7 linked regions of the Homo sapiens genome follow. The protein of the gene in region 1 purifies or fractionates together with the protein of each later gene. This does not show direct contact. Each region holds a gene or a part of one and is shown in the gene's direction. Other genes may lie near its edges.

What was found.
Region 2: the proteins of PCDHA8 (region 1) and TMEM39A purify together in Homo sapiens (affinity purification with mass spectrometry; one large-scale study listed by BioGRID and IntAct). This does not show direct contact.
Region 3: the proteins of PCDHA8 (region 1) and RDH13 purify together in Homo sapiens (affinity purification with mass spectrometry; one large-scale study listed by BioGRID and IntAct). This does not show direct contact.
Region 4: the proteins of PCDHA8 (region 1) and GPR50 purify together in Homo sapiens (affinity purification with mass spectrometry; one large-scale study listed by BioGRID and IntAct). This does not show direct contact.
Region 5: the proteins of PCDHA8 (region 1) and DDX21 purify together in Homo sapiens (co-immunoprecipitation; one large-scale study listed by IntAct). This does not show direct contact.
Region 6: the proteins of PCDHA8 (region 1) and SLC27A6 purify together in Homo sapiens (affinity purification with mass spectrometry; one large-scale study listed by BioGRID and IntAct). This does not show direct contact.
Region 7: the proteins of PCDHA8 (region 1) and BMPR1A purify together in Homo sapiens (affinity purification with mass spectrometry; one large-scale study listed by BioGRID and IntAct). This does not show direct contact.

Annotation. Positions count from the first base shown.
Region 1 is NC_000005.10:140,847,247-140,851,357, forward strand, and holds part of PCDHA8 (protocadherin alpha-8 isoform 1 precursor), read left to right. Parts: intron 1-1,135; exon of another isoform or gene 1,136-1,249; coding exon of another isoform or gene 1,250-3,778; exon of another isoform or gene 3,779-4,111. Other genes in the region: PCDHA9 (protocadherin alpha-9 isoform 1 precursor), read left to right, coding at 1,250-3,643.
Region 2 is NC_000003.12:119,456,850-119,460,960, reverse strand, and holds part of TMEM39A (transmembrane protein 39A), read left to right. Parts: intron 1-2,720; coding exon 2,721-2,943; intron 2,944-4,111. UniProt on the Homo sapiens protein: Regulates autophagy by controlling the spatial distribution and levels of the intracellular phosphatidylinositol 4-phosphate (PtdIns(4)P) pools.
Region 3 is NC_000019.10:55,059,921-55,064,765, reverse strand, and holds the start of RDH13 (retinol dehydrogenase 13 isoform 1 precursor), read left to right. Parts: upstream 1-1,617; 5' UTR 1,618-1,733; coding exon 1,734-1,798; intron 1,799-4,845. UniProt on the Homo sapiens protein: Retinol dehydrogenase with a clear preference for NADP. Oxidizes all-trans-retinol, but seems to reduce all-trans-retinal with much higher efficiency. Has no activity toward steroids.
Region 4 is NC_000023.11:151,174,902-151,179,549, forward strand, and holds the start of GPR50 (melatonin-related receptor), read left to right. Parts: upstream 1-1,682; 5' UTR 1,683-1,820; coding exon 1,821-2,007; intron 2,008-2,475; exon of another isoform or gene 2,476-2,935; intron 2,936-4,648. UniProt on the Homo sapiens protein: G protein-coupled receptor that plays a role in numerous physiological processes including regulation of energy metabolism, neurite outgrowth or cell migration.
Region 5 is NC_000010.11:68,982,869-68,985,568, forward strand, and holds the end of DDX21 (nucleolar RNA helicase 2), read left to right. Parts: 3' UTR 1-2,200; downstream 2,201-2,700.
Region 6 is NC_000005.10:128,985,788-128,989,898, forward strand, and holds part of SLC27A6 (long-chain fatty acid transport protein 6), read left to right. Parts: intron 1-2,812; coding exon 2,813-2,971; intron 2,972-4,111. UniProt on the Homo sapiens protein: Mediates the import of long-chain fatty acids (LCFA) into the cell by facilitating their transport at the plasma membrane.
Region 7 is NC_000010.11:86,885,457-86,889,567, forward strand, and holds part of BMPR1A (bone morphogenetic protein receptor type-1A isoform 3 precursor), read left to right. Parts: intron 1-4,111. UniProt on the Homo sapiens protein: On ligand binding, forms a receptor complex consisting of two type II and two type I transmembrane serine/threonine kinases.

The DNA of each region.
Region 1 (4,111 bases):
AAATCACGACTTTTGAAAGAAGGTTGAACGGGAAGACAAACTCAGAAGCTCCTGCAGTAATCAAGGACAGAAGCAATTGTTAAATGCACCTCTTAGGCTGTTATCAGTAGAAATACGAAATAAAAGATAAATATGCAAAAACATTAATGGCACAATAAACACTCACGGTTTTGCCTTTAGACTTGAGATACACTAAAATCTAGATTTAATTAATCGACTTGGACGTTGGAATAAGATAGTAAAACTCACAACAAAACTTTGTAGAACTTAGTCAGGAAAAGAATCTCAAGCATAGCTTTAAAAACAGAAATTGCCCCGAGTACTAAGGATGAGCAATAATGAAATTAAAACATATTGTAATAACATTACACAAACTATATTGGAGACTACAAAGAAGAGATTATTCATAGATTATAAAGCTTGGAAAGAATCAAAACAACACATTTCTGGAAACAGATTGTATAAATGCTACAAAAGAGAAAAATATATTTTCTCCCCACGCAACACAAGACCTTAAAGTCAATTCTCGCTTTTCTTGCAATATTTTATACCTTTTCAATTCATAGAATTACTCAAGAAAACTACCTCAGTTGGTTGCTACTTTTTGTTGATTCCTTTTACCAGACATGACTAAGTTTCTTTTTCATCAGTAGATTTCTGGGCTCCTATATTCACTAGAGATTGCAACTCCTGGATTTCTCTTACACTAGAATCCTATTTCGAGCCATATGGGAGATTCTGAATTCCAGAACAAAAGAATTTTGTAATTTAAAATTCGTGATTGCTCAATGGAATCATTTTAATTGTTACTTCATTTCTGTCGTTATTTAAAACTTAAGTGGAGAGTTTTCTCAGGGATAAGAAAACCACAATCAAGGTCATACAAAACTTTTAGAGGCAGTCAGTCTGCTAAGAAGGCTCCAGCAAGAGAAACGGGATCTTCTGTTTCAACAATCATTACTTAAGAAAAAATTAAGAAAATGAAATAAGTTTTGCAGAATAACTGTGAAATTTTTATTCATGAAATATGTACTTACACTTTGGGCCACGTGATGTCACTCTTTGCCGCGATGTTCTCTCTGAATCCAGACAAATACAGCCCTTTTCCCATGGGAAAGAGGCTCAATTCTTTTTCACTCTCTCTGTGCTGAACGATGGCGAACACAGCAGAATGGGACTGACGAAATCAGATGATTTCTTCTAATTTGGAGGCAATTTTCACTAATTAGAAGAAGACTGAGTATTTGAAATGTTATACTCAAGTCGAGGAGATCCAGAGGGTCAGCCTCTACTGCTCTCGCTTCTGATCCTCGCAATGTGGGTGGTGGGGAGCGGCCAGCTCCACTACTCCGTCCCGGAGGAAGCCGAACACGGCACCTTCGTGGGCCGCATCGCGCAGGACCTGGGGCTGGAGCTGGCGGAGCTGGTGCCGCGCCTGTTCCAGTTGGATTCCAAAGGCCGCGGGGACCTTCTGGAGGTAAATCTGCAGAATGGCATTTTGTTTGTGAATTCTCGGATCGACCGCGAGGAGCTGTGCGGGCGGAGCGCGGAGTGCAGCATCCACCTGGAGGTGATCGTAGACAGGCCGCTGCAGGTTTTCCATGTGGACGTGGAGGTGAAGGACATTAACGACAACCCTCCAGTGTTCCCAGCGACACAAAAGAATCTGTTCATCGCGGAATCCAGGCCGCTTGACTCTCGGTTTCCACTAGAGGGCGCGTCCGATGCAGATATCGGGGAGAACGCCCTGCTCACTTACAGACTGAGCCCCAATGAGTATTTCTTCCTGGACGTGCCAACCAGCAACCAGCAGGTAAAACCTCTTGGACTTGTATTACGGAAACTTTTAGACAGAGAAGAAACTCCGGAGCTTCATTTATTGCTCACGGCCACCGATGGAGGCAAACCCGAGCTGACTGGCACCGTTCAATTACTCATCACGGTACTGGACAACAATGACAATGCCCCAGTGTTCGACAGAACCCTGTATACGGTGAAATTACCAGAAAACGTTTCTATCGGAACGCTGGTGATTCACCCCAATGCCTCAGATTTAGACGAAGGCTTGAATGGGGATATTATTTACTCCTTCTCCAGTGATGTTTCTCCAGATATAAAATCCAAGTTCCACATGGACCCCTTAAGTGGGGCAATCACAGTGATAGGACATATGGATTTTGAAGAAAGTAGAGCACACAAGATCCCAGTCGAGGCTGTCGATAAAGGCTTCCCACCCCTGGCTGGTCATTGTACACTTCTTGTGGAAGTTGTGGATGTAAATGACAATGCTCCACAGTTGACTATCAAAACGCTCTCGGTTCCTGTAAAAGAGGACGCACAACTGGGGACAGTTATTGCCCTGATTAGTGTGATCGACCTAGACGCAGATGCCAACGGGCAGGTTACCTGCTCCCTGACGCCCCACGTCCCCTTCAAGCTGGTGTCCACCTACAAGAATTACTACTCGTTGGTGCTGGACAGAGCTCTGGACCGCGAGAGTGTGTCCGCCTACGAGCTGGTGGTTACCGCGCGGGACGGGGGCTCGCCTTCACTGTGGGCCACGGCCAGGGTGTCTGTGGAGGTGGCCGACGTGAACGACAACGCACCAGCGTTCGCGCAGTCCGAGTACACGGTGTTCGTGAAGGAGAACAACCCGCCGGGCTGCCACATCTTCACGGTGTCTGCGCGGGACGCTGACGCGCAGGAGAACGCCCTGGTGTCCTACTCGCTGGTGGAGCGGCGGTTGGGCGAGCGCTCGCTGTCGAGCTACGTGTCAGTGCACGCGGAGAGCGGCAAGGTGTACGCGCTGCAGCCGTTGGACCACGAGGAGCTGGAGCTGCTACAGTTCCAGGTGAGCGCGCGCGACGCGGGCGTGCCGCCTCTGGGCAGCAACGTGACGCTGCAGGTGTTCGTGCTGGACGAGAACGACAATGCGCCGGCGCTGCTGACACCTCGGATGAGGGGCACTGACGGCGCAGTGAGCGAGATGGTGCTGCGGTCGGTGGGCGCCGGCGTAGTGGTGGGGAAGGTGCGCGCAGTGGACGCCGACTCGGGCTACAACGCGTGGCTTTCATACGAGCTGCAGCCAGAAACGGCCAGCGCGAGCATCCCGTTCCGCGTGGGGCTGTACACGGGCGAGATCAGCACAACGCGTGCCCTGGACGAAACGGACGCACCGCGCCAGCGCCTACTGGTGCTGGTGAAAGACCACGGGGAGCCAGCGCTGACGGCCACGGCCACTGTGCTGGTGTCGCTGGTGGAGAGCGGCCAGGCGCCAAAGTCATCGTCGCGGGCGTCAGTGGGTGCCACGGGCCCCGAGGTGACGCTGGTGGATGTCAACGTGTACCTGATCATCGCCATCTGCGCGGTGTCTAGCCTGTTGGTTCTCACGCTGCTGCTGTACACTGTGCTGCGGTGCTCGGCGATGCCCACCGAGGGCGAGTGCGCGCCTGGCAAGCCGACGCTGGTGTGTTCTAGCGCGGTGGGGAGTTGGTCGTACTCGCAGCAGAGGAGGCAGAGGGTGTGCTCTGGCGAGGGTAAGCAGAAGACCGACCTCATGGCCTTCAGCCCGGGCCTTTCTCCTTGTGCTGGATCTACAGAGCGAACGGGAGAACCCTCTGCTTCCTCAGATTCAACTGGGAAGGTGGGTTTTTCTAGCATTTTATTTATTTATATAATTTTTTTTCTTGAAAGATATTATCGATTACTCCCAGGGGCCGTTCAAATAGTTTTATTCATTTTTCTAGAAATCCAGCAGATTTTTTTTCTGATAAAGTAAACCCCTTAACATTGGAGCCGACTTTGTCTTGACTTCTAGTGAGAATTATAAACTGTATATTAAATAGATATTTTTTGGGTGCTGAATCAATTTTATTTAAATTTGTGATTAAAGTGACATTGAATTTCTGATGCTATGCTGCCATAACACTTGAAAACCAATTTAGTTGTTAGTCATTCATTAAACATTAACATCACTATCATTTATTTATTGCTAAATGATGCATAGTATTTTAGTCTACTTGTATTGTTTATAAGAAACCCAAGCAAAAATATATAGCAATTGTTACCTTGTTAAGTTTGTAGTTCTCTACATTTCTCTGGATGGAGACTG
Region 2 (4,111 bases), on another chromosome or scaffold:
TTATATACTTAAAAATAAGAATGAGAATATGCGAAAATGCTTTTGAAGAAAGGTACTATCTAATATAGGTATTGAGATAAAAGTTGTTTGCTCTTTGAGGTACATGCCTTAATTTTATTAATATATGCTATCAACTTATTGATTCAGTACTTTCAAATTGTGATAGAAAATCTTAGCTGTCCCTAACTAGGATTCTAGCCAACTAAAAAATTCTAACTTTGCCTCCTAACTCTAGCAGTTCTTTGTTCGTTCTCTTTGACTTTGGCTTTGAGGATTCCTCTAGATAATTATGTTCTCTAGATAAAAATGTTCTTAGACTGTCCCATGAAATCCCTCTTCAGTGTCTCAGGGGTTGCTGTAGGAGGGCTTAGAAGGGAAAATGGATCAGGCAAGCCTAACAGTCTAGGCTTGAGTTTTCCTCGTCTTCTTTTAATTAGACTGACTCATTTTCCTATGTGTTTTAAATATTAAGATACTATGTAAAATATCATGAGGAAAGGAAAATAAAGCGTTCTGCTATTAAAAAGAACTGAAAGCCAATGAAAATGTCATTTGTAGATGCTTCTGCTTGCACTTAGAGTCTGCAGATGGTATACTGGGAAGAAGTAGGAACGTTCGGAAAATACCTCGGCTCTTGACTGGGTTTGGTATTCTTTTCTCTGCCTTCACTGTAGCTCTTCTATCCTGGTATTCAAGGTTCCAACCATGGTTGCTTTAATCTGCCTTTCTCTCCTCCTTTAACATATGTTTATTTAGCAATTAACTGGGGGGAGGGAGGGAGTGGGTAGAAAAAAGTATTTTCCAACATTTTAAAATGAAAGAAATAATTGTTTATGGTTTGAAAAGTCACCAAGACTATTATTGAGTGATTATTTGTGACATGTTTACCTAGAGAAATTATTTGGGGAAAAGAAAGCTTTATATTTCTTTCTTGGTGGGAAGCAAGCAGCTGGAATAATTTGTTATAAAAGACCTGGGGACGAGGTATGAAAACATGAAAGAACTAGCGGATAGCTTATAATATAGTTTTAGGAAGGATATATAGAAAGAAGGAGTGTCCAGATGAGGAGAACTCACTTCTGGAGTGTCTATAGAGTATTGGAGGGAAATAGATAATTGCTTCAGTATTACATACTTTTGGATGATACATTTGATTCTGCAAGACAGACATAGGTCAGCTGGAGAGGAGAGAATTTGTCCCTGTTTGGTAGGTGCTTGTGGTCTGATTGGTGAAGTTAAACTCTAGAATGTCAAGGAGCTAGTTTGGTAACACAGTCAAGGTTGAAATTGTAGTTCCTTGTCCTGCTGTCCACCTTTGGGGAGCAGGGATTTGTTCTTGCAACAGTGTATTTAAAGTATTATCCTTTTAAAAAAGGAAGATATATTGTGTATTTCTGGATTTCTTAGAGAGTTCCTGATTGAGGGAGAATCTTATTTGAGAAGAACTATTGTTTTCTTTGCTTATTCCTTGCATATACTTTGTTAATAATATCACCTGAACGTGTCCAAATGACCACTGCTTTCCCTACCTCTTCTATTCCTCTTTATGCCTTTGAATCTTTCTTCTTTCATCCATTTGCTTCCCTAAATTCTGCTGCTTGCTGGCTCCATACCAGTCAGTCTCAGGCCTGCTGTGTTAACCCTTTGCCACACACAAACTTTATATGCAAGGACAAAACACAGGTGTTCAGCATAAACCACATTGTTTGTATAAACAGTTTAGGCACAGTGAGCCACTCTAGTTATTTAGGGAAAGTTTATATCACTGTAGGGAACTGTTTACTAGTCATGGTTCCCAGATGTAAGCCTTGTAAGCAGGCCTTCCTAAGAGTAGCTATGTTGAACACCTGCATTCTTTTTGGGAGTCTAGAATTTTGGTACTGCTAGAAAGAAGGTGCCCATGTGGCCAGCCCCCAATAAAAACCCTGGGCATCAAGTCTCTAATGAGCTTTCCTGGATGAGTAGCACTTCACATGTGTTGTCACAACTCATTGCTAGAGAATTTATATGGGTTCTGAATAGATTCTTAAATCTATTTTTATATTCTTTTTTTGGTTTTGTTTTTGAGATGGAGTTTCACTCTTGTTGCCCAGGCTGTAGTGCAATGGTGCTACCTCAGCTCACCACAACCTCCGCCTCCTAAGTTCAAGCGATTCTCCTGCCTCAGCCTCCCAAGTAGCTGGAATTACAGGTGTCCACCACCATGCCTGGCTAATTTTTGTATTTTTAGTAGGGATGAGATTTCATCATGTTGGCCAGGCTGGTCTTGAACTCCTGACCTCAGGTGTTCCGCCCGCCTCGGCCTCCCAAAGTGCTGGGATTACAGGTGTGAGCCACCACGCCTGGCCAAGAAAAGTTTTAATATGACTCCCAGGTTTCTGATGTGGGCAGCTAACTGAGTGGGCCATGAACTAAGGTCAGGACTATAGGAGGGAAGAACACAGAGATGTCCAGTAGGGAGTTGAATAATGTGTCTATAATTTAGCAGTGAGCTCTATGGAGAGAAATTATAGTCTTCATCATGTAGGAGATAATGGAGGCCATAGCTGCATCTTAGATCACTGACAGAAAGTGTGGAGGGAGAAAAGAGGATCCCAGGATGGAGTCTTGTGGGGAAAGCAGACAGTGAAGGGGTAGATGGAGGAGACAGCAGGAGCCCTTTATGTTCTGTGATACTGGAGGTTATCACCATTTGAGTTAACCATAGTTTTCTCTTTCAGGAATGGTAGTGCTATTGGCCTTCCAGTCCCACCTATCACAGCCTTAATCACCCCAGGTCCTGTTCGTCATTGCCAAATTCCTGACTTGCCTGTGGATGGGAGCCTACTCTTTGAATTCCTTTTTTTCATCTACCTGTTGGTTGCTCTTTTCATTCAGTACATCAACATTTATAAAACAGTGTGGTGGTATCCTTACAATCATCCTGCTTCTTGTACATCACTGGTAAGTCTTACTCAGACTTTAAGTTCTTCATGTTACTTACCCAAGAAACTACCTGGAAAGCCTTTCTGTAGAAATTGTTTTTCTTAATAATTTTTCTTTTAATAAAATGTTTTTCTGCTAGGCCACAGATTACTTTCAGAAATAAAATTTCATGATAAGATGGTTAAATTATAAGTACTACCAGAGGAAGTAAAAATATAAATGAAAATGCAGAAAACATTTAAATAATTTTTTATAATAATATCACGGAAAGGTTTTGGTATTTAGTTTTCTCTACACCATTTTAAATTTGTAAGTATAAGGTGTCAGTGTTACTACATTCTAACAACTCTACCCTTTTAATGGCTGAATTAGGATAGTGGTAGCTTCTGTAACAAATAAACTCTGAGGCAGTTGTCCTGGTTGCCAGGAGTTCTTCAGGGGACCCAGGCTGATGGAGATTCTACTGTCTTCCAACATGTGACCTCCAAGGTGGCTGTGGCCCATCCCTGTCAGCCAGAAGGGGAAAGAGCTTAGGGCAATGTAAAGGACAGTTTCTTATGGGCCAGGCTTACATCATTTCCACACATGTCCACTCCTAATTACAAGAGAAGCTAAATATAGTCCTTTAGCTGGGTACATAGTGAACTTAAATCAAATTGGGAAATTGGGAAGTGAAATTGAGAAATTGGCTGTCTTTGCTGAAGTACATAAAAATATATTGTAGGTTTCTTCTGTTCTCTTTCCATTTATTAAGAGTACCATGATAGGCCGGGCGCGGTGGCTCACGCCTGTAATCCCAGCACTTTGGGAGGCTAATGCGGGCGGATCACGAAGTTAAGAGATCGAGACCATCCTGGCTAACACGGTGAAACCCTGTCTCCATTAAAAATATAAAAAATTAACCGTGTGTGATGGCAGGCGCCTGTAGTCCCAGCTACTTGGGAGGCTGAGGCCGGAGAATGGCATGAACCCGGGAGGTGGAGCTTGCAGTGAGCCGAAATCGAGCCGCTGCACTCCAGCCTGGGCGACAGAGCGAGACTCTGTCTCAAAAAAAAAAAAAAAGAGTACCATGATAGTCTTGATGCAGAGAAGGTTCACCATAGATGGGTATATAAAAAAATATTGGTAAGGCCTGGGCATGGTGGCTTATGCCTATAATCCCAGCACTTTGGGAGGTGAAGGCAGC
Region 3 (4,845 bases), on another chromosome or scaffold:
TGACACGTGCCTGTAGCCCCAGCTACTCGGGAGGCTGAGGCAGGAGAATCGCTTGAACCTAGGAGGCAGAGGTTGCAGTGAGCTGAGATCGCCCACTGCTCTCCAGCCTGGGTGACACAGTGAGACTGTCTCTCAAAAAACAAAACAAAACAAACAAACAAACAAAAACAAATCCTGTGACTTCCCAATCTCATCTCCAGCCCCCTGCAGCCACCACTCTGTTTTCTGTCTCTATGAATTTGACTCCTCCAAGTGCCTCTTATACAGCATTTGGCATTGTGTAACTGGTTTAATACGTTTGAGATGGTGAGAGCTTAAGGTCTACAGGCCTAAGGTTTTTTTTTTTTTGACAGAATTTCACTCTGTCGCCAGGCTGGAATGCAGTAGGGCAATCTCGGCTCACTGCAACCTCCACCTCCCGAGTTCAAGTGATGCTCCTGCTTCGGCCTCCTGAGTAGCTGGGACTACAGGTGAGTGCCACCACATCCAGCTAATTTTTGTATTTTTAGTAGAGACAGGGTTTCACCATGTTGGCCAGGCTGGTATCAATCTCCTGACCTCGTGATCCATCTGTCTCGGCCTCCCAAAGTGCTGGGATTACAGGCGTGAGCCACCGTGCCCGGCCATTGACTAAGGTCTTAAAATAGCTCTTCCTGCCTGTATAATCTCCATTATGGCAGGGCTCATATAAGAAGATGACAGTTCATCTGATGAGGAAGAAAACTTACTCCTAGTTAGATTGGGTTGAATTCTTCCCTGTTTCCAGCGGTGTCTGCTCCTGGCACCTCAGGCACAGTCAGGGGTAGGAGGTGGTGATCAGATACACTCGCTGTGAGCAGTGCAAGGGGAAGCAGGTGCCCAGAGGTGCATCCCGGTTTGGTGGGGGTGACAAACATGGACAGGTAAGTGCAGGAGTGTGTGCAATACTCAATCTAAGAAAGGTAGTTCAGGCAGAGTTCAGGGAAGATATCTCTGTGCAGGGCCAGACATGGGGATGAGATTCTGATAATTTGGGAATGAATCAGGCCCCCAGCCCCTCCTCCCTCAGACTCAGCAGTCCAGGCACCCGGCCCTCCTCCCTCGGACCCAGAAGTCCATGCTCCCAGCCCCTCCTCCCTTGGACCCAGGAGTCCAGGCCCCCAGCCCCTCCTCCCTCAGACCCAGGAGTCCAGGCCCCCAGCCGCCTTCTCCTGCAGGACCCCAGGAGCTTGGGTACCCACAGGCTACTAGATCCTTGTTTCTGTGCATGGAAATTCTCAAATTATCTCCAAAAGTCTATGAAGAAGGTAAACACACATTTCCAGATGAGGGAATAGGCTGATATAGTTGAAAGACACACAGAGGGTCACAGTCTGGAATTGACAGTGGTGGGATTCGAACCTATTTCACTCCAGAACTGCGTAGCGCCTTATACGCTGCGGCAAGTGTGACGTCATTCGAACAAACCATAGGCCCCGCCCCCGGACTAGCCACGCCCACAGGCTCCTGAAACCACCAATCCCAGCTGTGACAGCGCTCAGGACCGATGCTCATAGGTCCCGTCCCTAGGATCCCCGCCCCCTCCGCCCGCGCCCCGCCCCTCGCAGCCCAGTTCCGGACGCGGGCCCAGCCGCGCCTGCGCCTCCGCTCGCCTGTGGCTGCGTCGCGCGCTCTTCCTCGGAGCTACCCAGGCGGCTGGTGTGCAGCAAGCTCCGCGCCGACCCCTGACGCCTGACGCCTGTCCCCGGCCCGGCATGAGCCGCTACCTGCTGCCGCTGTCGGCGCTGGGCACGGTAGCAGGCGCCGCCGTGCTGCTCAAGTGAGTACATTCTAGCCCCGCGTGCGCGGTCAAGGCGGGCCCCCAGCGCAGGGGCCGGGAAGGCGGCGGAGACCCCCGCCCCTCGCACCCGGGTCCAGGCCCCGTAGCTCCCGACCCGCAGTGCCCGCCCGGAGTGGGGCAAACCTGCGCTCTGGCCGGCCAGGTCACCGGCCCAAGGTCACTCGGAGGGAAGGGCGAGCCTGGGCCCTTGTAAATGTTGCTTTCCTTCCAGACTTTTAAACTCTTTATTTTGTTGTTTTGTATTATTTATTTGTTCGTTTATTTTTAAAGGCAGAATCTGGCTCTGTCGCCCAGGCTGGAGTGCAGTGGCGCGATCTTGGCTCACTGCAGCCTTGACCTCCTGGGCTCAGGTGATCCTCCCACCTTGGCGTCCCCAGGAGCTGAGATCACACGTGCGCCACCACGCCCGGCTAATTTTTGTATTTTTCGCAGAGACGGGGTTTTGCCATGTTGGCCAGGCTGGTCTCAAACACCTGCCCTCAGGTGATCCGCCTGCCTCGGCCTCCAAAGTGCTGGGATTACAGACGTGAGCCACCTCGCCCAGCCTACTTAATTTAAACTTTCTTAAAAATTAGCCTCTGTGGCTGGTGGCCACTGTATTGCATGGTGCCCTTCTCTCCTGTGGGTGCAGTGCTGTTTACCTGCTCAGCCTCCTGTTGCTGGACACTATCTTGTTGCCAGCGTTAGCCTCTGTGGGACATGGGTGTGGTGGGCAGAGTCGTGACTCCGTAGAGGGGTCCACGTCCTAATCCTCGGAAGGTGTGACGACATTACCTCACGTGTCAGAGGTTCTCGCTGATGTGTTAAGTGAAGCATCTTTTTTTTTTTTGAGACAGAGTTTCGCTGTTGTTGCCCAGGCTGGAGTGCAATGGCACGACCTCGGCTCACCACAACCTCCACCTCCCGGGTTCAAGCGATTGTCCGGCCTCAGCCTCCTGAGTAGCTGGGATTACAGGCATGTGCCACCACGCCTGTCTAATTTTGTATTTTTAGTAGAGACGAGGTTTCTCCATGTTGGTCAGGCTGGTCTTGAGCTCCCGACCAAAGGGGATCTGGCCACCTTGGCCTCCCAAAGTGCTGGGGTTACAGGCGTGAGCCACCGTGCCCGGCCAAGTGAAGGATCTTATGATTATCATGTAGTCTTTTTTTTTTTTTGGAGACAGGGTCTCTCTGTCACCCAGGCTGGAGTGCAGTCATGCTGTCACAGCTCACTGCAGCCTCACCCTCCCTGGGCTCAGGTGGTCCTCCCACTTCAGCCTCCCGAGTAGCTGACTCTACAGGCGTGCACCACCAAGCCCTGCTAATTTTTGTATTTTTAGTAGAGATGGGGTGTCAGCATGTTGGCCATGGCTGGTCTCGAACTCCTGACCTCAAGTGATCCTCCTGTCTTGGCCTCCCAAAGTGCTGGGATTACAGGTGTGAGGCACTGTGCCGGTCCTGCCTTGTAGTCTTATAGGGTCCTTATAAGAGGGAGCAGGAGGCTCAGTCAGAGGGGAGATGGAAGATAGAAGGAGAGGTTGTTGGGTGTGGTGGCTCACGCCTGTAATCGCAGCACTTTGGGAGGCCAAGGCAGGCGGATCACAAGGTCAGGAGTTCGAGACCAGCCTGACCAACGTGGTAAAACTCTGTCTCTACTAAAAATACAAAAGAAATTAGCCAGGTGTGGTGGCATGTGCCTGTAATCCCAGCCACTCAGGAGGCTAAGGCAGGAGAATCGCTTGAACCTGTGAGGCGAAGGTTACAGTGAGCTGAGATTGAGCCACTGCACTCCAGCCTGGGCGACAGAGCGAGACTCTGTCTCAAAAATAAATAAGTAAATAAATAAATAAATAAAGGAGAGGTTCCAGTGAGGATGCAGGTTGAAGATGGAGGCGGGGCCAAGAGTGGAGGAATGTGGCGGTCTGTAGGAGCTGGAAGTGGATTCTTCCCTAGAGCCTCCAGAAGGAACCTGACTCTACCAATACCTTGATTTATTCCAGTGAGACATGTTTTGGACTCTTGACCTGCCGAACTGGAGGAGGATGCACTTATGTGGTTTTAAGCCACTAAGTCTGTGGTAATGCGTACAGCAGCCTTGGGAATCTCGTGCAGCGGGCATTTTAAATTTAAATTTAAATTTTTTTGAGACAGAGTCTCGCTCTGTTGCCCAGGCTGGCACCATTTCGACTCACTGCAACCTCCGCCTTCCAGGTTCAAGCAATTCTCGTGCCTCAGCCCCCTGAGTAGCTGAGATTACAGGTGTGCACCACCACGCCTGTGAAGGGGTGGCCTGCCCCTCCACACCTGTGGGTATTTCTAGTTGGGTGGGACGAGAGACTGAGAAAAGAAATAAGACACAAAGTATAGAGAAACAACAGTGGGCCCAGGGGACCGGCGCTCAGCATACCAAGGACCTGCACCGGCACCGGCCTCTGAGTTCCCTCAGTTTTTACTGATTATTATCTTCATTATTTCAGCAAAAAGGAATGTAGTAGGAGAGCAGGGTGATAATGAGGTCAGCAAAAACCATGTGAGCAAAAGAATCTATGACATAATTAAGTTCAAGGGAAGGTACTATGCCTGGACGTGCACGTAGGCCAGATTGATGTTTCTCTCCACCCAAACATCTCAGCGGAGTAAAGAATAACAAGGCAGCATTGCTGTAAACATGTCTCGCCTCCCGCCATAGGGCGGCTTTTCTCCTGTCTCAGAATTGAACAAATGTACAATCAGGTTTTATACCGAGACATTCAGTTCCCAGGGTCAGGCAGGAGACAGTGGCCTTCCTCTCTCTCAACTGCAAGAGGCTTTCCTCTTTTACCAATCCACCTCAGCACAGACCCTTTACGGGTGTTGGGCTGGGGGACGGTCAGGTCTTTCTCATCCCACGAGGCCATATTTCAGACTATCCCACGGGGAGAAACCTTGGACAATACTCTGTGTTCAAGGGCAGAGGTCCCTGCAGCTTTCTGCAGTGCATCGTGCCCCTGGTTTATTGAGACTAGAGACTGGCGATGACTTTTACCAAGTATACTGCTTGGAAACAT
Region 4 (4,648 bases), on another chromosome or scaffold:
GTGGGGGCTTCATTTTCAAACAAGGAGACACATTTCCAGTTTAGGCTTTATAGCTAGAGACAGTGTGTGCAATCTTGGTTTTCAACAGTGTCTGTTTTTTTCGTTAAAGGTATCTGAATGTTGAAGTTCGTCGCGTAACAGGCCCCTACTACCTACCCCGCCTTGTCCGTCCCCCCACCCACCCCGGGGCAAGAGGGCTGCTGTGTCCAGACGATGGCGCTCCCGGCCAGTGCAACCCCTCTCCCCTACTGTGGCAAGAAGACTAGTCTGGAACAAGTTTCAAGGTGTTTACTGAGATTTTGAAAGGCTTCTCGACAGGAGCCGTAACTTTTAGTAGCCGGCAGAAATCCATTCCCGTGACCAAGGTTATTGAGGGAACGAGTGTCCGAATCACGCCCCTTTAGTTTTGCCCGAATATTCGAATTTTCCGTGGTCCCCGCGGAGCGAGATCCTGGGCGCACCGCAGGGGAACTGTGACGCACGGGGACAGAGATCCGCGGTGTGGAGGGCGAGGGGGGAGGCCTGAGAGGGATGGGGTCGAAACGAGAACCCCAGAAGGGCATGGGAAAGGAGAAAGACCGAGAGGAATCCTGACTGAGGCAGGGATCGCCGGTCAGCCAGAGGCTTCTTGGTTTAGCCGCGTGACACCTCCGCACCTTTCCCGCGGCTGCGGCGCAGCTCCTTCAGCCTTCCTGACTGCCCCGTGCCGCTCAGTAGAGAATGCCGAGCATCCCGAGAGGGAGAGGCGTCAGAGCCTCTCGTCCTGAGTTTCCTTGAGAAGCGGGGACCCAAGAGAAGAGCTTTATTGCCTGTTTTACTTTTTCCCAAAGCGTCCCTTGGCTTCCGCCGCCTGGCTGCCGGCAGCTGGAAAGGAGACGAGCTCCCGCTCCCGTTCGCCCCCAAACTGAGGACCGAGTGGCCACCAATGCCTTCCCTAGGTCCCAGGGTGCAGACCCGCTCCCCACTTCCAGAGTCGGGCGCAGGGTACATCTCTTTATGGAGAGTGCAAGACCTGGACCGGACTGAGCGGCTACTCGCAGCTGCCGCTAAGGGAGCCAAGAGGCTCCTGGCGAGAAAGGGAGCGGGGTTAAGTTCCCTAGGGATTAGGGACCCAGATTGGGGGTGGGAGCTCCCAGCAGTAGTCCCCTGTTCCCCGCGGGACACAGAAGGCTCTAGACAGGCAAGGGCATGGGGCGTGGGATGGACCTCACAAGGATACTTGCAGAGGCAAGCATCTAGCGTTCAAGGGGCCACCGGCTATCCCCTATACCCTGCTGGGGGCTGTGGACTGGCTTGGTCTAGCACTGGATCCTATGAAAGACTCTGTGCTCCGGCTCTGCAATCTACATCTCTTTGCCAGGTGTTTGCACTGGAGGAGAGAGGGAGAAGAACTTGCTAGAAACGAATGCACAGGGGCTGGTGGAGGGGGTGTGGGGTGGACTCCGAGCTAGTCATGATGCTTGCAAGGTACCTGGGAGATTGAGAGGCAGGGCAGGCTGGCTAGAGAGGAAGTACATACAAGGCAGTCGGAAGCAAGATGACACCTCAATGTGGATTTGTCCAATAAGAGGGGGTAGCCAAGGGGGGGGTATTCAGGGAGGTCTGATTGGTCGGGGGGAGGGATTTGGGGTGGGGCTAGCCGCCTCTTGAGGCTTTAAAAGCTCATCGGAGAGGGGCGGGATGCTGTCATTTGCTCTCTGACTCTCAGAGAGGGAGGCACGCTTTCCTGGAGCTCCTGGTGACAGAACAGGTGTTTGCTGTCTGGACCTGGCTGCTGATCCTGAGCCTGCTGGGAGATCTTAACGATCCCCAGGAGCAACATGGGGCCCACCCTAGCGGTTCCCACCCCCTATGGCTGTATTGGCTGTAAGCTACCCCAGCCAGAATACCCACCGGCTCTAATCATCTTTATGTTCTGCGCGATGGTTATCACCATCGTTGTAGACCTAATCGGCAACTCCATGGTCATTTTGGCTGTGACGAAGAACAAGAAGCTCCGGAATTCTGGTAAGCCACCCCTTCTTCTCCCTACCCAGTGTGCAGAGACTTGCAACCCCTAGGGCGTTAGTTTTTGAGCTCCCCGAATAGAGAATCTATGGACAGTGCCCTCATATTGAACATCCCTGCTCCCAAATTCCCCGCAAGCCTGGGGGTGGTAGTATTCTGTCCCGGCCCTCTAAACGTGGAGGTTCTCAAGGCCGAGAGAGCACAGAGAATTAGCTTTGGGCATCCAAGTACAAAGCGTTCCCGTGGTGCGCGGCAGCCCGAGGATCCCTGTCCCGTCGGGGCCTGATGCGGAGGGAGCCGGCACCCGAGCGGGAGAGTCAGGCGATTCGCCCGGGGACAGCAAGCCGAGCCGGACGCCGCAAGGGCGGCCGCGCTGAGGCAGCGCGGACCGAACTGACGCGGAGGGAGCAGCGGGGCTGCGACCTGCTCTGTGAAAGTTAAGTTCGCGGCGGCCGCGGCGGCCCTTACCAGAGCGCAACGCAGTGGCCTCTCCCTAGCCGGGCCAAGAGCCCGCTCGCCGCGGCCCTGGGGCTCCAGGACGGCTCCCGGGCAGATCCCGGGCGGCGGAGCACAGACCCCCGCGCCCGAGAATCGAGCAGGGAGGTCTGAGCCCGCCGGAGCCGAGCTCCGTCCGCCCGTCCCAGGGCGAACGGCAGAGAGAGGCAAGCGGCGGGTCGGGCACAGCAGGCGGTGGCAGCGACGGCGGCGGCAGCGGAGATCCCAAGGTCCGTAAGCGGGGAACTGGGGGGTCGCAGGGCGGGCCGGCCAAGAGGCTTGGGAGCTGGGCGTTGCTGGGGGTGGAGGGATAGAAGGCAGCAAAACCGAGTAGGGATTGGCGGGAGGGCGACGGGAGAGCTCAGAGGCGGCGATGGGGGACTCAGAGAGGCTGCAAAGGGCTGGGGTCTGGGAGCCGCAGGCGGGACTTCCCCCGCTGCTAGCCACTGCCGAGCGGGAGGAGGCCGGGGGCCGGGGGCCGGCGGCGAGCAGGGCAGGAGGGAAGCGTGGGAGGATGCCGGGCGCTGCGACCTGTGCTGGGGGTGGGGGCGGCAGACACTGCAGAGCAGCTAGTCCGGCTTACAGGTTGGGCGGGAGAGGGCTCTGGAAGGGAGGGGAAGGGGCAAAGGCGCCCAAACTCCGAGTTCAGGCCGGGGGAGGGAGGGGCGGCGCCTGGAATTTCCACCGCCAGATTCTCGATCGGCTGGGGCTAGGAGTGGGGACCGAAGGGGGTCTGAGAGGGTGGGGAGACCAGCTGGATTCTCCCGGGCAGGGCGTGGGGGAGAGGTGGCGGCCGGGGTCTGGGGGATTACTTTGCTTGGGCAAGGAGTCACGAACACTGAACAAGTTTAAAAACGCACTGACTGGCACACAGTCATTAAAAGTTTTCTTACAAAGTCTGGTGGGTGTCTCCGATTTCTCCTTCGTCTCCTGGAATCGTGGGGCCATACACTAGGTCTTCACCTTCACCCCCGCGGTGCGGTCCCGAGGTGCAAACCCACGGAATCCTGGGGGCGACCTGCGAAGCCCATTTTATTCCCTTTAGATTTCTTTTCTTTCTTTTTCTCCTTCTCCTTCCTTCCTTCTATAATTCAAATAAAGGCTTTTATGGTTGTTGTGGTTTTGTTTTTAAGGCTTTGCCCCTTCTCTTTTCGGCTGTATTTCCCTGAATTCATTACTCTGCCGGAAAACCATAGAAAGAACCTCTTCGGTAGAAAGTGCTGAGGCCGAGTGCTGACAGCGCTGGAGGAAGGAGGAAGAAGGAGCCATACCTTTGCCCTTTTCAAAAGCGCTCATTTTCTCCTAGTCCAAGATGAAGTGCAATATTTTGCCAAACCAATGCTAATTAGCAACGAGGTGTCTCCAAAGAAAGAGGGCTCTGCGCCTGCACCTGGCCTCTTCCTTCTCTTTTTTGTGAAAGGTTTTACAAAAAAGTTCCCACCTCAGCCCTACAAGACCGGAGTGGGGGTGACCCTTCTTCTCTATCCTGTTTAACCTGAAGGCTCCAGTAAAGTTCAGTGCCCGGCGCTGGGAGCTCTGTGCAGGGCGCTGAATGTGCCAGTGCGCGGCTCTGCGCGTGGACGTGGACGCGGCATGTAACTGAAACAGGCACTTCTGCTAATCCTTGCAGGATTTTTTCTCCTCCCCCCCACCCCCGCCCACCTCGCGCCACCCTTCCCGCCCGCCCTCTCACTACTTCTTTGGTCTCAGACTAAATTTTACAGGGCTTCCCTGCTTCCCCTCAGTTTTCACTCTTAGGTTACCTCGGAACGGTAAGTATTTGACTTGGCAAGGTTTTAGGTTACTGCTTGATCCCATCGGAAAAGACTGTTTAAGAAGATGGCCTCTAATGCCTTTTCTCAGAATCTTCTCTCTAGTAATGTGTTTATTATAAATGCAATGCTAGGCTATAGGAGGGAGATGGCTAATTTATCTTTTTCTAATTATTTAATTATTTTTAATTTTTTTAGTTTGAGGCTTCCTGACATCCCTCCAGTGTCTCTCCTTGCCCCCCACTCTCCAGCCTCCTTCCTAAAAACAAGTCCCTCTAGCTCACCTCTACTCCCCTCCTCCTTCTCCCTCCCCCTCACCTCCAGTGAAGGAAACGTTTGCATTTTGTTTTTCTCTAAGATGGTGGCAGCATGAC
Region 5 (2,700 bases), on another chromosome or scaffold:
GAACATTATTTTTCATGCAAAGTTAAAAGCACATTGTGCCTCCTTTTGACCACTTGCCAAGTCCCTGTCTCTTTCAGACACAGACAAGCTTCATTTAAATTATTTCATCTGATCATTATCATTTATAACTTTATTGTTACTTCTTCATCAGTTTTTCCTTTTGAAAGGTGTATGAATTCATTACATTTTTATTCTAATGTATTATCTGTAGATTAGAAGATAAAATCAAGCATGTATCTGCCTATACTTTGTGAGTTCACCTGTCTTTATACTCAAAAGTGTCCCTTAATAGTGTCCTTCCCTGAAATAAATACCTAAGGGAGTGTAACAGTCTCTGGAGGACCACTTTGAGCCTTTGGAAGTTAAGGTTTCCTCAGCCACCTGCCGAACAGTTTCTCATGTGGTCCTATTATTTGTCTACTGAGACTTAATACTGAGCAATGTTTTGAAACAAGATTTCAAACTAATCTGGGTTGTAATACAGTTTATACCAGTGTATGCTCTAGACTTGGAAGATGTAGTATGTTTGATGTGGATTACCTATACTTATGTTCGTTTTGATACATTTTTAGCTTCTCATTATAAGGTGATTCATGCTTTAGTGAATTCTTCATAGATAGTATATATAAAAGTACATTTTAATAGAAAGCCAGGGTTTTAAGGAATTTCACATGTATAAGGTGGCTCCATAGCTTTATTTGTAAGTAGGCTGGATAAATGGTGCTTAAATGGTAATGTACTCCACTTCTTCCTATTGGAAGATTAACATTATTTACCAAGAAGGACTTAAGGGAGTAGGGGGCGCAGATTAGCATTGCTCAAGAGTATGTAAAAAAAAAAAAAAAAAAAAAGAACCAAACCACTGGAAATAATCAAATGCAAAAAGGTAACAAATTCATAACTGGAAAGCAAAGAGAAGAACAAGTATGATTTGGATGATAAAGCATTGTTTTAATGGTGAAAACTTCACAGATCACTAATGTTTCTAGAGGTTAACTTCAAGTGGGCAAGCTGGGGTTTTTAGGTAGTCAGTGGCCTAGTTCCTAAAGCCACAGTATAGGATCTGTTAAACTGAATGTCTGTTGAAAGTTTGTTTTAGCTGCTTGGAGGCTTCCTTTTAAGACAAACTGTATGTGATTAAGTTGTTTTGAGGGAACTGAAGAACCTGATGTAGCCCCTGGCCAGATAACTGCCTGATTTCTCAGATATTATTTCTCTGGGAAACATTCTACATAGCACAGGAGCTTAAGAGTGGCATTATCTTCTCGCCTTAATTTCCAGAGATTATTTCTGTACTGAGAATCCTGGAACTACTATGCTAGGAAATTTAAAGCTGCATGGTCTGTCTTGTTTTCATTTAATTATTGTGAATACCTAGAATCTTTCTTGGTCCTGATTTCTCTTGCTTAATCCAGTCTTTATCTCTAACTGCCCCTTATTTGATCACCATGTACTAGGAGCTCTGATAGCCAGCTCAGCTCCTAATCCTTGAGGCAACATTCTTTTTCTATTTGAACTTCAGTTCTGTCCTTGAATCCCGACTAGATATTTCTTGCCCTCTGGTCTCAGAATTCTCTTGGCTTTTATTCCTTGATCCACTTGCCAGTTTTATCACTTTACCCTTGTTCCTCATGGCTTCCCATCAAGCCATGGGTATTAGGTGACAGTGTAATTTATTAGATTCTGGTTTTGCCCAAATACTGGGCATGCTTTAATAATAACTGAACCATTTCATTATTTGGATAGGCATGGGTACCTTATCAAGCAGATTAAAAGGATATGGTACCCGTCCTTTAGAAAAGAACAGCTAAAACCTTGTTGTGGATTATGGATTTAGCCTAAAGAAAAATAATCTGGCATAAATTAAGAGTAAGAGAGAAGATTAATAGAAATTTCACTTCACATAACTTAAAACATGGCTATTTCAATAAAGGACTAAAGTTTCTCCTGGATCCCAGAATTCAACCTGTATTTATAAATGTATAATGTATTTAGCTACTTTTTGGTTTAAATGAACTTGTTGGGTTAGCTTGGTAAATGTTATAATTTTTACTATTTTCTACAAAGAAAATATTTTCTAATTTAAGTTGGAGCTATCTGTGCAGCAGTTTCTCTACAGTTGTGCATAAATGTTTTTACTATAAAATGAGCTAATGTATAAAATACTGCTGTATACCATAATAAAGATAGTAATACTTGATTTTAGTGGCTTTTGTTTTCTAAAATGAAAATAGCTTGAAATATTTATTATAAAAATAATAAAAGCTAGATATAAAAATCTAAAGAGAAAAAAAACCAGTCACCCTTATCTAATATTTTAGTGAGCAGTCTTCCACATGTTCATTTATAAAATTGGAATTATTTGATTTTGTGTATTGCTTTTCCCCCCTCAACATGTTGTGCACAATTTTGTACAGGCTTACATGGACATTTTTGATGACATGTTTTCTTGTATGGATATGCCACTACACATTTAACCAGTACTCGATGTCCATGTTGGTTATTTCTAATTTTTCACCATTATAAACAACCCTAAAGTTAATATCCTCACATATGTGTTTGCATACTCGTCTGTCACCTTAGGATACGTTTTCTAAAGGTAGAACTACAGCTTTGAACTCCTAGGCTCAAGTGATCTTCCCTCTCAGCCTCCCAAGTAGCTGAGACTACAGGGGGGTACCACCAAACCTGGCTAATATT
Region 6 (4,111 bases), about 12 Mb from region 1:
TTCTCTATATTCCTGTGTAAATTATTAAATCCTAAACATAATCCAGGTATACCGGCAATTTAAGCACCTGTTGCTGGCTCTCCTGATTTTGGTCAGGGTAATTGAATCATGTGACAAACAGGAACTCTTGAAGGCACTGCAGGTTTGGACTAAGATACAAAATAAAATCAAGTAAATAAGCTTTATTTTAAGTAAACAACAGCAATAACAATAATAAAACTGCCTGAGAATTCAAAAGAAGGGCCTGGCACAGTGACTACTCACACCTGTAATCACACACTTTGGAGGCCAAGGCAGGAGGATTACTTGAGGCCAAGTGTTTGAGACCAGCCTAGGCAACACAGTGAGACCTCATATGTACAAAAAAATTAAAAAAAATAGCCAGATGTGGTGGCATGCACCTGTAGTACCAGCTACTCAGGAGGCTGAGGCAGTTGAATCATTCTATCCCAGAAGTTCGGGGTTATAGTGAGCTGATTGCACCTCTGCACTCCAGCCTGGGCAACAGAGTGAGACTCAGTCTTAAGAAAGAAAAGAAAGAGAATTCAAAAGAAATGTTAAACTTAATTGATTTCTAGGAAAAACTGAATGGTATTAATGGTAGCCTAAATAGGCTTTCATTATTAGTTTGAAAATGATTGTTGATTTGACTTAGACATATTAAGAGTATTGTTACTCATTTCTTGTGCATAGGTTGTGAGCAACTATTGCATAGTAAAATTTTTCTTACATTTTAAAAATCTATTCAGTTCCTAATTGTAATCCCTTTTAGACTGGAGAATATAATTTTTTTTTACATGATTAGAACAGTTTTGATAAATGAACTGAAAAGTGCTAATATGTGTGTGGCTACTCTGTCCAGACTGAGGGAGCTTCTTTCTCAGATTGTTCAGGCTACCTAATCAGGTCTATTGAATAATAACAGGTCTAGAAGTTGGCAGATTGAACAGATACACAGTCCCTTAGGACAAAAGGAATGGAACTAGAGATGACAGCTACAAAATTTTAGAAAAGGAGGTGATGACTGAGTGTGGTGGCAGACACCGCAGACCCAAGAAGCTGAAGCTTATGGTGAAGCCTTGAAGAAAATTCATTTGCCCCCACCAAACCCCAGAAAGGCTCAGAAATTGGGTACCAGGTACCTCAAAGAGTAGAAAATAAATGTGAAACTATAAGCAGGAAACTTTATGGGAAGTTTGTTTAAGAAGGAACTATAGTCCTGGATTGCTTCTTCCACCCTGATAGAAGTCCTGAGACGTAATTCTGGAAAAGATGAACTTCTGAAAATACCAGGAAGAACAGAGGTTTAAAAAGTAGGGGATATAAAAGAAAGTCTCCCTCCCTATAAATATGTATATATGTATATAGATAGATATACATATATGTATATGTTCTCTTTAATATATATAACTTCTTTTAATACTTGACTGTTTTAATCTTTGAGATTCTTGTCTGAGGAATCTGAATAGCCCACATGTAAAAATTGAAAGACACTGATCATGATGGATTCCCCCAACAGAATGTCCTGGACAGTGAAACCAACTAGTAAATAAGTATTCTTCAGACACAGAGATTCTAGTTAATATTTTGTTTGTTTATTTTGTGTTTTTGTGTCTGCACTTTTAAATATAAACTGATAGTCAGTAGTCTCCAGATATTTGAAAAAAATCCTCCTGAATATATTCTAGATTAGATTGAGACCAATACAAACGAAAGATAAAAAGGATGTTGGAGAAAACTGACAAGATAGAGAGGAGAAATTTTCAAAAAATTATTATTGTTAATATTCTGAAAGATGGGGACAAAAAAGTGTCAATAATATAAAAATAACATACTACAAAAAGAGGAATATTCAGAGAACATAATTGTTGGAAAATCTCTCAAAAAGTAAAGCAAAAGGTAAGAGAAGGAAAACAGGATAGGCAACATTAGGAAACCAGTGATTCTGTCCAGGAGGGCTGATCTTCAGAAAATCAAGAGTTCTAAAAATGAAAGGATGAACACACAAATAAATGTAACAGAAAAAAGCAATGGGCAAAAAGAACAGAAATAAGGAAGGAAAGAGAAGAATGGGGTGTGAAAATTATTTTGTTTTCAAATTCAAAAATATCTAGAACTATAAGACCTGAGTTGTTAGACTGAAAAAGCCTAAAAATTTCCCAGCGAAATGGATAGATGAGACTGGTCCCAGTAAAAGTCATCATGATATTACAGACTACTGAAAACAAATAGAAGATTCCAAAAATGAAAAAAAATAGAAATACCATGTTGCATCCAAAGGATAAGAAATCAGAAAGACTGATAATTGCTCAATATATATACTGGAAGTCAGAAGATTATAGAGCAATGCCTTCAAAGTCCTGCGTAAAAATGACTACTTACCTAGAATTCTTTACAAGCAGCCATTCAAGTGTATAGGTGGCAAAAAAAGACATTTTCAGGCACATAAGGACTGACAAAAACTTACCTCCCAAATGCTCTTTATCAGATAGCTACTGAAACCAAATGTGTGCTACCACTGTAATTAATTTCTAGAATCTTAGATCTATCCAGAAAGGCCAACGATAAAATTACATAGCGTTTGAGATACAGGCCTACTTAGCAGCCTGTCAAAGGAGCGTTGCTAAAGTCAGAATGGCCTCTTTTACAAAGCAGATAGACTACTTTGATATATTTTCTGTCAATTGCTAGTGTAGTTGTTATCAGTATCATCTTCTTTCTGTTACTTCCTTTCTAGTTATATGAATATGTATGCATATGTATATGTATGTATGTGTGTATATATATTTCCTGTTCTTTTCTTTTCTTCCAGGTCTACCAAAAGCAGCTGTGATTAGTCAGCTGCAGGTTTTAAGGGGTTCTGCTGTCCTGTGGGCTTTTGGTTGTACTGCTCATGACATTGTTTATATAACCCTTCCTCTGTATCATAGTTCAGCAGCTATCCTGGGAATTTCTGGATGTGTTGAGTTGGGTAAGGCTTTATTTTCTTTTTGATAAGTTTTCAAAATGTCTAATAATTAGAACAAGTATTTATTAACATTTGAAGCTGTATCGGTAGAATTTAGAGTGATTATATGCATATTATTTTATTATAACACAATATTTATTTTAAAAAAACTACACAATTTTATGGCATATTCAGTGTTTTCCTGAGGTGAAAAGAACAGTTTTCTGAGGATTTGGCCATGTGGTCGGAGCTGGCTATTGGCTGGGCTTCTCTCTCCTTGTAGTCACTCACCCTCAAACAAACTACCCCAGATTCCTCAAATGTAGTAGAAATGTTCCAAGGGAGTGAGTATGGAAGCTGCATAAATCTTAAGGCCTAGTCTTGAAAGACACATAGGTTATTTTACCTTCATTCCATTGATCAAAGTAAGTCATGGGCCAGCCTAGATTCAAGATTCCAGGGCTGGAGAAACAGAAGCCACCTCTTGAAGGGAGAAGGAGCAAATTTACACTGCAAAAGTAAGAGCCCTGAAGAAATTGCTGAGGCCATCTTTGCGAACAGTCTGCCATAGACACTCAATAAATTAGTTGGTAGAGCTTGTGACTCAGTAGATTCCATTCATAAACATGCAAGATTATGTGTCAGTTTCTAGACCTCACATAATATACAAACAGTGGAGATCATTTGCTACTTGTATTTGTCTAAAATGCTGTAATTTTTAGAATAGAATATTTAGAATATGATCAATATCCACCATAAATGAAGATGAGATATTAAAAGACATTAAAATCTTCAGTGGACATACATTGTTGTCAAAATTAGGTTCTGCAGTCATTTAAGAACTTTTTTGTTAGTACTATCTTGCTAATTCAACCTTACTAACAGTTGACCTCAAGATATGTTGAGGTGGCCGGGCGCAGTGGCTCATGCCTGTAATCCCAGCACTTTGGGAGGCTGAGGCAGGTGGATCACGAGGTCAGGAGATTGAGACCATCCTGGCTAACACGGTGAAACCCTGTCTCTACTAAAAATACAAAAAATTAGCCAGGTGTGGTGGCAGGCACCTGTAGTCCCAGCTACTCGGGAGGCTGAGGCAGGAGAATAGTATGAACCTGGGAGGCAGAGCTTGCAGTGAGCCGAGTTCGTGCCACTGCACTCCAGCCT
Region 7 (4,111 bases), on another chromosome or scaffold:
CCAAATGTGGCTTTTGAGCACTTGAGTTGTGACTAGTGTGGGTGAGAAACTGATTTTTAATTTTACTTCATTTTAATTCGTCTACATTTTAAGTCACATGTGGCTAGTGGCTACCATATGGGACAGCACAGTTGTAGACATGCCACCTTTTCCCTAGTTCTTGCTTCCTTGTACTTGACTTTCCTTCTGCTGATGTCTTCCTGGTTTCTATTTAATTAATGATGCAGACTGTTGTTGCAGAATTCATTAGGCTACCATTGCTGATTATCTCATATGTATAGTGCATCAGTAGCCCATTGGTCTCACCAACCGTTTGCCATCTGAGTTCTGTTGTAGACATTCTATCTTAAGGTTGCGGCAGAGGGCATTTATTTGCTGTAGAAAAAGGAAGCCAATAAATTATTGGGAAAATATGAAAAATTACTTAGCCAGGAATAAAAATCTAGTAAAATCATTGATGCCAAAAATTGCTGTTGATGACAAGGACCTGTAAATGTGCCTGTGTATGGTCATGTGTCTCTTGTAACTGTTTGTCTCTTTGTATGTATATGTTTTCATTTTTTCCTGAGATGTTATACTTAAACATGTAAGCTATTAAATATTTTGTGTGTGTTTGTTTTGAAATATAACCTATACCCCCAGTCCACCCCAGGGCTCGTAGTTTATTCTTTGTAAATACACGGGACTTGTGGGTGGCGAGAGATTGACATGTTCAGAACTGACAGAAGGCCATGTGCCAAGTAAAGTGATGATGGTGAGGCCTGCAGGACCCAGATCCTGTTGGGCCCTGGGAGCACACAGTGGAGGTTGGATTTTATTCTGAGTGCATTGTGGAGCCATTGATTGGTTTTATATAGGAGTGACAGATTTGTGTTTATAAAATGTCTCTGGCTGCTCTGTGGAAAATGGATTGCAGGGACCAAGAGCAGAAGCAGAGGGAACAGTTGGAGACTTCTTACCTTAGTAGAGGCATGATGTGATGGGCCTTGGTGACAACAGCGGAGTTGGAGAAAAATGAAAACAATTGACATACATTTTGGAGGTTGAGCCAAAAGACTTTGGTAAGACCAGGTTTGAGGCAAATCAAGAGTTCATTTAAGACAAGTCAGTCAGGAGATGTCTAAGCAGGTCATGGCTAGAGGGGGTACATCCAGGAACCATCAACAGAGTGGGCGCTGTCCCCTAGGGAGAGCACAGAGAGGCTCTTTCCTGTTACTTTTCTTTGTATTCAATATCTGCTTGGTGAAATCTTGCAAGTTTTTAAGATGTAGCTTAGATTTCATTACTTTTGACACCTAAGATCAGTTTGAGTTTGACACCTAGGATGAGCCTTTTCCTTTGTTTACATGTAAACACCTCCGTATTTTGTCACTTTTTTTTTTTTTTTTTTTTGAGATGGATTTTCGCTCTTGTCGCCCAGGCTGAAGTGCAATGGCTTGATCTCTGTTCACTGCAACCTCCACCTCCCAGGTCAAGTGATTGTCCTGCCTCAGCCACCTGAATACTGGGATTACAGGCGCCTTGCCACCACGCCCAGCTAATTTTTTAATATTTTTAGTAGAGACGGGGTTTCACCATGTTGACCAGGCTGGTCTTGAACTCCTGACCTCAGGTGATGTGCCCACTTTGGCCTCCCAAAGTGCTGGGATTACAGGCGTGAGCCACCGCGCCTGGCCTTTGTATTTTGTCACTTTTCACATTGTATTTATTTGCTTTTGTGCTTATTCCCCCTCTGCTTTCCACCAAGTTTCTCAAGGCCACATATGTGGTTTTGATGCCACATCTTTGCGTTTCTAGCATTTAATACCTTGCCTGCACATAATAGACCCCTACTAAGTATTCTGTTGAATATTTGGCAATAACATAAGCTCCAGATACAACTACTGTAATTGAGTTTTTTGTCTCATGAATTCAAATAGTATTCTAGGAAGTTTCATATAACTTTGAGTTTTTTCATGTATCAGTGATCTTTTAGTGTTCTGATCTTTGTTATTAGTAACATCTTCATTTGTATACTATTTTACATGTAGTTAAGCACTTTAGTAAATATTCATTTGATCTACCTATAACCTCTTGATTTGAATTAGGCAGGAATTATTATCCCCATTTTCTATAGATAGCTGAGGTTCAGAGAGTAACTTATCTGTGCCCGTAACTGCGACTTGAACCCTTCACTTCTTGCTGTTATCTCAAGTGATATTTCTGCCACACTAAACTGCTTTTTCTGTGTCACTAGATTTTTGAAAAATCAGTTGCTGTGATATATTATATACTGTTTGTTTTCCAGAGCTGAATTGATACGTGTCTTCTGTTAATGTAATAGGATTTTAAAGCTGGTCAGGTTCCCTCACCTGTCCTCTAGTCCTGTAGCCTTATAGAGTAAATGAAGCCTGGAAAGGTGACATGGCTTGCCCAAGACCATCCAGCTAGGTAAAGCGGGGTAGGCCCATGGCAAAACAGAATCCCAGTCTCCTCATTTCCTGCTCAGTGGATTTCTTCCCTTCCTGTACCTCCTGCTTCCCCCACCCCATCTTTTACAGTTGATGTTTCTAACATAAAGGAGGTCTTTCCGCTTTGTAGCAATCAGATCCAACGGAAGCCTTGACATTATATTACGGAATTTATTTCTGAAAGGAGAGTGGTGTGGGGGGCGCGGGGATGAGTAATATATGTATGTACACAAACTTCCAGCTTTTTTTTTTTTTTTTTAAGTGTTTTCTCTCCTGGCCGGGCACGGTGGCTCATGCCTGTAATCCCAGCACTTTGGGAGACTGAGGCAAGTGGATCACTTGAGGTCAGGAGTTTGAGACCAGCCTGGCCAACATGGTGAAACCCTGTCTCTACCAACAAAATACAAAAAAATTAGCTAGGCGTTGTGTGGGGTGCCTGTAATCCCAGCTACTCGGGAGTCTGAGGCAGGAGAATTGCTTGAACCTGGGAGGCGGAGGTTGCAGTGAGTCGAGATTGCACCAGTGCACTCCAGCTTGGGTGACAGAGTGAGACTCTATCTCAAATAAAAATGTTCTCTATACTCATTCAGTAGCAAATTCTTTTACTAAATATTCGGTATAAGAAAGTGAAGGTTATTGGCCAGGCATAGTGGCTCACGGCTATATTCCCAGCACTTCGGGAGGCTGAGGCGGGAGGATCGCTTGAGCCCAGGAGTTCAAGACCAACCTGAGCAGTATAGGGAGACCTTGTCCCTACAAAGAATTTAAAAATTAGCCGGGCATGGTGGCATGTGCCCTTGGTCCCAGCTACTCCAGAGGCTGAGGTGGGAGGATCACTTGAGCCTGGGAGGTTGAGGCTGCAGTGAGCTCTGATCACATCACTGTACTCCAGCCTGGGCAATAGCGTGAGACCATGTCTCAAAAAAAAAAAAAAAAAAAGTGAAAATTATTGAAACTGAAGGCATGTAATCATCAAAACACTATTTAGCAGCACTTTTTCTGTTACCTGTGTGTGCATATGTGATATTTTTTGTCTTTTCAGTAGTTTATCTCATCAGTATGGTAAATGTAAAATCAAGTCTGTGTTGTGTCTTGAACCACTTATTTAACATTCATAATGAAATACATATACACTTGTCTGTTTGGTTCCACCTTTCATTCCCTTGAGAGTAACCCACAAAGAATGGCCTAGCTGAGTCAGAGAGAGGAAGTAATTACTAGAACAGTTTTTTTAGTTCCGTTCTGCTTCCAGCCTGAAAGATTTAGTACCAAATATGACAGTATCTGTCACTGCAGGCTGCTAGACTCTAGTGTAAGAACATAGTTCTATTTCTGTGAGCTAACTGCTGCCCTTCTATAACCTTCAGTTTCTGCCAGCATCGTCTGCATTCAAACCAATGACCTCGAGGTGAAAATCTCCAGATAACATGATTGGTCCCCATGCTCTCATGATTTCCTTACTTAAGCAATTAAAGGCCAAAGCAAGATGCTTAGTAACTCCTTTTCCACATAGAGGCACAAATAAAGGAAAGCTGGTCACAAGTTTTGAACCAAAGAGTTAAAAGAAGAATCATAACTTGTCTCTATTTAATGATTGGAAACTCTCACAGACTTCTGTGAAGTCTCTCCCCCTTTTGTACCTTTCTTACAAGTGATGACTA